Homo sapiens: one gene and its partner. The protein of the gene in region 1 purifies or fractionates together with the protein of each later gene. This does not show direct contact. Each region holds a gene or a part of one and is shown on either strand. Other genes may lie near its edges.

Region 1 (3,491 bases):
GCCCGGCTAATTTTTTTGTATTTTTAGTAGAGATGGGATTTCACTGTGTTAGCCAGGATGGTCTTGATCTAGAACTACTAATTTCATATCTTTCCTCCCCACTCCACCTCTCTTCTGAGCTCCAGCCTCCTAGTTCCATGTACCTAGCCTACCTCTCCCCTTGGAGGGCTCACAGGCATCTCAAAGTTACCGAATAGGCCAAACAGGACTTTATGCCCTCAAATATTCCTCCTTTGTTCTTCCATATGTCAGCAAACCACACTTCTGTCCACCTACTTATTCACACCAGAAACCTAAATTACCTGTCAATCCAACACTACTTCTTGTTGGTTCGATTTCCAAGTTATATCTAGAATCCTTCCCACTGCCCCCCTCCTCCACCCACCATCTTGGCACCTGAACTTCACAGGAGCCTCCTAACTTGCCCCTTCCCAGCACTGCTGTGCCCGGCCGCCACAGTCACCTTTGAAAATGCACGGCTGCTACTTCATGGCCTTGCCTAAAGCCCCTCAGGAACCAAGTTCCAGATGTGGTCTGGCTCCTGCCTACCTCAGCAGTGTCCTTGGTGTCATTGTCCCTCTTCTGCCATGCTCCCGCCTGCTGGCTCTTTCTGTCCTTCCAAGCCCTCATGCCTCCCTCCCTCAGAGCCTTCACACATGCTGTTCCCCTCTCTGTAGTGCTCTTCCCCTCACTCTTCATCTGCATGACGCCTCGTCCTCCTTGGTTCTCAGCTAAAATGTCACTTTGTGACCCCCAGCCTTGATCAGGTCCCAGTGATCACTCCAGCACCCTGCATTCTCCCTTGAAGCCTTGAGCACCAAGGCCATGACTTAGGTACGAGGTGACTTTATGCCACCTGTAGTAGATGGTAAGCTCTGTGAGGCCAGGGACCATGGCCAGTTTGTTCATGGTGGTATCTGTGCCAGTGCCTGGCGCATGGTATTAATAAATGTGTGTACATGTTTGTCAATAATTTTATTTAAAGAAAAGTCTGAGCCCATGTTCTTTAAAATGTTGATGGTGGTTGTCTGGGTGTGGAATTATGAGTGACTTGTTTTGTTCTTTGTACTTTTCTGTGCTTTTTGCTTTGTTTTCAATAAGAGGCAATAACTGTCATTTTGACAGAAGCCACTGTGCTGGGGAACTGGAGCTGTCCTCTCTGCAGAATGCATCTGGACTTACCTCTGCCCCCTTGCCTTCTGTCCCCACAGGCCTGAGGAGCGATGCGACAGGCATGATGGAGGTCGAGTCCTCCTACTCGGACTTCATCTCCTGTGACCGGACAGGCCGTCGGAATGCGGTCCCTGACATCCAGGGAGACTCAGAGGCTGTGAGCGTGAGGAAGCTGGCTGGAGACATGGGCGAGCTGGCACTCGAGGGGGCAGGTTAGAGCCAGCAGGTCCTTGGCACTACTGCATGCCAGAGGCCCTCTGCCGGGCCCCGGGCTAGCCTCCAAGTCCTAGACTGCCCATACTTTCTTAGAGAAGAAACCACATTTAAGTCAGGCCTGCCCCATGGTCAGTGGCAGAGTCCAGCAATCTCTAGGTTGGAAGATGTTTGAGTCTCAGGCCCCAAGGACTCCTCTGGACAGGCATCCGGGACTCTTCCTGTCCCCCTGCCCCCTAGCCCAGGTCCCTCCACTTCTCGCTATCCCCACAGCTATACCTGGCTCTGGCCACTCACAGCTCTCACCTGGCTGACTTTAGCGGCCGGCTTCCCTGGGCTCCCTACACCCATCTCCGCCCTTCCTGTTCAGCTCTATGCAGCAGCCAGCAGACCCCATTTAAACCATTCTGTCCATCATGCTTCTGCCAAAAAAAAAAAATCCCCCAGTGGCTTCACTGAGTGAAGCTAAGCTTGTCACATTGCCCTGGGGCAGTCCTGCTGTAGGCCGGGCCCTGCCCAAGTCTCACCCGGTGCCACTCCTCTCCCTGACACCCTCCAGCTACATCTACCTTTGGTCTGTTTCTCAGTCAAGCCTCTCCAAGGGGCCTTCTCTGAGTGCTAGATCAGCCTTCCCCAATCACATGACCCTCATCACTCTCTGACAAGGTCTCAGGGGTCTAAATGTGAGCGCCGGGAGGGCAGAGGCCTTGCATTCTGTTTGGCACACAGCAGGTGCTTGGTAACCACAGACCGAATGACAAAAGGAAACAGCATCCACCCACCCAAGTCCTGGCTGGAACACCCCCACCCCCTCCATTCCCCCAGAGAACCCCTTGGCTCAAGTCCACAGTCAGCCTGGGAATTTCCTTGGGAAGCTTCCCTGACCCCTGCACGGCTGAGGCCTTTCCCTCCTGCTCTCACAGCGCCACAGAGGCCGTGTGTGCTTCTCACAGCACAGCCATCAGGCTGCAACTGTCTCCCCGTGGGCTGTCCGGAGGGCCACAGCCCTGCCCCTCCCTGGGTAGCCCTAGTCTTCTTGCCCCTCACTGGCCAGAAGTGAATCAAAAGTACAGAACAGAGAAGACTTTGCCGGGGCTTGGACCCAGCCCTCTCATGTTACAGATGGACAAACTGAGGCCCAGAGAAGTTGGAGGACTTGCTCTGGGCCACCCAGGGAGTTAACATAGAATCTGGCCGGCTTGAGAGAGAGCCCCCAGCACCCTGTCGACGGAACCCCACCCCAAAAGCCTTCCCTGTCCCATAATCTATTCATTCTCCTCTGTCACGTGGCCCAGGCAGAACCTCCACAGGCTCACCCTGCTCGCCTCTCCAGCATCAACTCTCATCCTCTCGCCAGCCATAGTCAAGTACTTTGATCGCTCAGAAGCCCCTGTGGGCCTTCACACGCTGCACCTCTGTTTGCTTCTCCCCTCCCTCCCCTTGCCTGGCTGGGTTCTCTTCATTCTTAGAGACCCAGGCATCTGCTCAGCTGAGAAGCCTTCCCTGACCGCAGTACCCCTCCCAGACCGGGGAGGCACCTCTTCTCCCTGCTGCCTCCATGAGCCCACTGAGCATAATGGCCCTGCTCTAGACTGAGCTTCTCCAGCACAGGCTCTGTGTCTTGTGCCCTCGGTGCCTGGTGGTGTTTGGCACATGATGGAGGTACCGAGTCAATGGCTGTTCATTGACCGACTGAATGACCAGCATGTCCAGCTGCCACACTGGGCACGCTGCCCTGGGCTCTCTCTCAAGGCTTCTGTGTCCTCACCCTCAGCTCTGGTGAGCTCTGTTCTGTCTCTCTCTCCCTCAGCAGTTGTAGCTGCTGGCCCATGTGCCCAGGCTCTCCTAACACCTGTTTTCCCTGACTCAGATTCCCTAAAGTATGGGTCCTCTGGCTACATGACATTCACCTGCCAGGGTGACTGACATTTAAAAAGGGGGCCTGAGGAAAGAACAGTGCTCACTGAAGGAAAGGAAACACTCACGGTGGCGTCCAGGCAAGAGTGACTGGCCAAGGAGCCTTCCAGGAAGCCCGCAGGGAGCAGTTCCGTTTCACAGGCGGGGCTGCGGGCCACGCCCACTCCAGCGACTCCCCAAGGCAGGGG
Region 2 (4,025 bases), on another chromosome or scaffold:
TATTTTTAGTAGAGACAGGGTTTCACCATGTTGGTAAGGCTGGTCTTGAACTCCTGACCTCGTGATCCGCTGGCCTCGGCCTCCTAAAGTGCTGGGATTACAGGTGGGAGCCACCGCACCAGGCCTCTTTTTTTTTTTGAGACGGAGTCTTGCTCTGTCGCCCAGGCTGGAGTGCAGTGGCGCGATCTCGGCTCACTGCAAGCTCTGCCTCCTGGGTTCACGCCATTCTCCTGCCTCAGTCTCCCGAGTAGCTGGGACTACAGGCACCTGCCACTACGCCTGGCTAATTTTTTGTATTTTTAGTAGAGACACAGTTTCACCGTTTCTACCATAGAGCCAGAGAGGGCCCCCTCCTGTTTTTTTATCTCTTACCAAGACCTCCTGGGGCTCCTCATTCCTTCAGGATGGTCTCGATCTCCTGACCTTGTGATCCGCCCGCCTCGGCCTCCCAAAGTGCTGGAATTACAGGTATGAGCCACCGCACCCGGCCTTTTTTTTTTTTTTTTGAGAAGCAGTCTCTGTTGCCCAGACTGGAGTGCAGTGGCACGATCTCAGCCCACTGGAACCTCTGCCTCCCGGCTTCAAGCAATTCTCCTACCTTGGCCGCCCAAGTAGCTGGGATTGCAGGCGCCCACCACCATGCCCAGCTAATTTTTTTTTTTTTTTTTTTTAGACGGAGTTTCGCTCTTGTTACCCAGGCTGGAGTGCAAGGGCGCGATCTCGACTCACCACAACCTCCGCCTCCTGGGTTCAAGCGATTCTCCTGTCTCAGCCTCCCAAGTAGCTGGGTTTACAGCCATGTGCCACCACGCCCAGCTAATTTTGTATTTTTTTAGTAGAAACGGGGTTTCTCCATGTTGGTCAGGCTGGTCTCAAACTCCCGACCTCAGGTGATCCGCCCACCTCAGCCTCCCAAAGTGCTGGGATTACAGGCGTGAGCCACCGCGCCTGGCCTCAAGTGGGTTTCTGAGGGGCTATTTCTTGCTCATTAGTTGGGGGACCGGCCCTCACCACAGATTCCAGAAGCCCAGCAATGCACACTCAGCCCTCAGTGGGCTGTCTCTGAAGGTCCTGTCCCTTTTTCGCTTCCCCCCCGCTGGAGCTGCTTCTCCCGCTTGCGGGAGCCCAGGCTGAGAGCAGACACCCAACCTGTCGAACCTGTCTGACGTCATCATCTCTCCACCCACCTGGGCCCCAGGTCTCCAGCCACCCCGCTCTTCCTGTTCTCAGCTTCCGTCCTCTCTGCTTCCTTACAGCACCCCCACCTGCCAGAGCTGATCCTCCCTAGGCCCTGCCTAACCTTGAGTTGGCCCCCAATCCCTCTGGCTGCAGAAGTCCCCTTACCCCCAATGAGAGGAGGGGCAGGACCAGATCTTTTGAGAGCTGAGGGTTGAGGGCATTGAGCCAACACACAGATTTGTCGCCTCTGTCCCCGAAGACACCTGCACCCTCCATGCGGAGCCAAGATGGGGAATGGAACTGAGGAAGATTATAACTTTGTCTTCAAGGGTGAGTTGGGTTCCCTGAAGCAAGAGGAAGCCTGAGAGACCCAGAAAGAGATTGAATAGAGCCAGAGAGGGCCCCCTCCTGTTTTTTTATCTCTTACCAAGACCTCCTGGGGCTCCTCATTCCTTCAGAAAGAAAGCTGCAGGGAGTGGGGGAGGGTCTGGTTGCAGGGGCAAAAGTCAGGGAGCTTCTGAGTATGCTCTACTGTGGTAAATAATGATGTTGATTCCTCCTTAAGAGTGCTGAGTTAGGCTCCTCTGCCCCGTTCCTAATAGAAACCCAAATCCCTGGTGTCAGCCAGTGCAGCACAAGAGATGGAGGTCAGACTTCAGAAAGGACTTCCCTCTTTTATTTTTTTTTCTGAGACGGAGTCTTGCTCTGTCGCCCAGGCTGGAGTGCAGTGGTACAATCTCAGCTCACTGCAACCTCCACCTCCTGGGTTCAAGCGATTCTTCTGCCTCGGCCTCCCAAGTAGCTGGGACTACAAGCACCTGCCACCACGCCCGGCTTATTTTTGTATTTTTAATAGAGACGGGGTTTCACCATATTGGCCAGGATGGTCTGGAACTGACCTCATGATCCGCCTACCTCGGCCTCCCAAAGTGCTGGGATTACAGGCATGAGCCACCACACCCGGCCAGGACTTCTCTCTTGAGAAGAAAGGGAAACCAGCAAACAAGAGGAAGAAAGTCATCTTTTCTGGGCAGGTGTACAGGGAACGAGAGAAAGGAGAGACACATCCCATTATAGGGTGGGGCAATAAATACATAGGGAAGACAGAAAATATCATGAATTTGCTGCAGAGTCTGATAGAATCCAGAGGACTCCTAGGGTTGTAGCCTCGTCTGCCTGGCCCTTGGCTGACTCACTGGACCTGCATACCAGGCACTGGGCTCAACTTTGCTGTCCCTGGAAGCATGCATGTATCTTTCTAGCCCCTGTGTTTGGTGCCTTTGCTGTTTTCCAACCCCACCTTCATACTTCCTTTAGGGCAGGGTGGACTCTCCAGCCACCCTACCCCAATGCCTCTCCCAACCTCAGCCCGGCCCCTCCCTTGAGCTGGGACTCTCACTCCAGAACCCGCCCTTGAGCTGGGGAACCTGTACTACTGGCATCTTTTCCAGGAAGGAAAGGGTTAGCAATAGTCTGGGGCAATAATATGAGGAACTACCATTTATTGAGCACTTACTATGTACCTGCCACTACCTCATTAATACCATAACAATCCCCGAAAGTCATATTTTATTTTGAGGGGCAGTGTAACATTGTGGTCAGGAGCCAGACTGGGTTCAGATCTCAGCCCTGCCACTTACAAGTATTGCGGGTTGGTCAGCCGGGTGCAGTGGCTCACGCCTGTAATCCTAGCACTTTGGGAGGCCGAGGCGGCGGGATCACTTAAGGTCTGGAGTTCCAGACCAGCCTGGCCAACATGGGGAAACCCTGTCTCTACTAAAAATTCAAAAATTATCTGGGTGTGGTGGCACGTGCCTGTAATCCCAGCTACTCGGGAGGCTGAGACAGGAGAATCACTTGAACCCAGGAAGCAGAGGTTGCAGTAAGCCGAGACTGTGCCACTGCACTCCAGCCTGGGCAACAGAGCAAGACTCTGTCTAAAAAAAAAAAAAAAAAAAAAAAAGTATTGAGGGTTGGGTTGGGGTCCCTAGAAGCAGACGCTGAGAAGAAGTTGGGGTGTTCAATGTTTGTTTGTTTTTTGAGACGGAGTCTCGCTCTGTTGCCCAGGCTGGAGTGCAGTGGAGCGATCTTGGCTCACTGCAATCTCCGCCTTCCTACAACCTCCGCCTCCTGGGTTCAAGCGATTCTCCTGCCTCAGCCTCCTGAGTAGCTGGGACTACAGGTGTGCACCACCACACCCAGCTAATTTTTGTATTTTTAGTAGAGACAGGGTTTCATCATGTTGGCTAGGATGGTCTCGATCTCTTGACCTTGTGATCCGCCCTCCTAGGCCTCCCAAAGTGCTGGTATTACAGGCGTGAGCCACCGCGCCCAGCTCAATGTTTTTTTACAAATCAGCACCTGTGAAAGGAAGGGAGAGGAAACATAATTGGGCAGAGGGAGAAGTCAAACAGCAACACAGGCTGGACAAACCTGGGTCAAGGGCGGGGAGCTCTGTGATTGCCTCACCTTGCTTGAGCACTGGGTGTAGGCTGCCCAGAAAAGGCATGACTTCCAGTGAGGCCGCTGTCTGCACCAGAGGCAGACGCTGAAGGAGCTGACAGCTGGAGCCTGTCTGCAGCCTGCACTCCCTGCAGCTTGGGGCAAGTCCTTCCTTGAAGGCTGATCTGGCCAGCACATCTCTGTGTTTACAACACTAGCCCTGTTATCTTGGGCAAGTCATTTGACCTCCAAAGCGCCTTGTCTGTAAAAACAGGTAAAATAGTAATGGGATTCATGGCATTCTTATGAGGATTAAATGAGGTAATATGTGTAAAGCTTTTAACGACACTGCCTGGCACATAGTAAGCATTCAGTACACTGTAAACATGAACCATTAGTATCTC

Evidence for each region.
Region 2: the proteins of PKIG (region 1) and RAB25 purify together in Homo sapiens (affinity purification with mass spectrometry; one large-scale study listed by BioGRID and IntAct). This does not show direct contact.

The regions. Positions count from the first base shown.
Region 1 is NC_000020.11:44,613,323-44,616,813, forward strand, and holds part of PKIG (cAMP-dependent protein kinase inhibitor gamma), read left to right. Parts: intron 1-1,211; 5' UTR 1,212-1,234; coding exon 1,235-1,385; intron 1,386-3,491. UniProt on the Homo sapiens protein: Extremely potent competitive inhibitor of cAMP-dependent protein kinase activity, this protein interacts with the catalytic subunit of the enzyme after the cAMP-induced dissociation of its regulatory chains.
Region 2 is NC_000001.11:156,059,935-156,063,959, forward strand, and holds the start of RAB25 (ras-related protein Rab-25 precursor), read left to right. Parts: upstream 1-1,225; 5' UTR 1,226-1,466; coding exon 1,467-1,509; intron 1,510-4,025. UniProt on the Homo sapiens protein: The small GTPases Rab are key regulators of intracellular membrane trafficking, from the formation of transport vesicles to their fusion with membranes.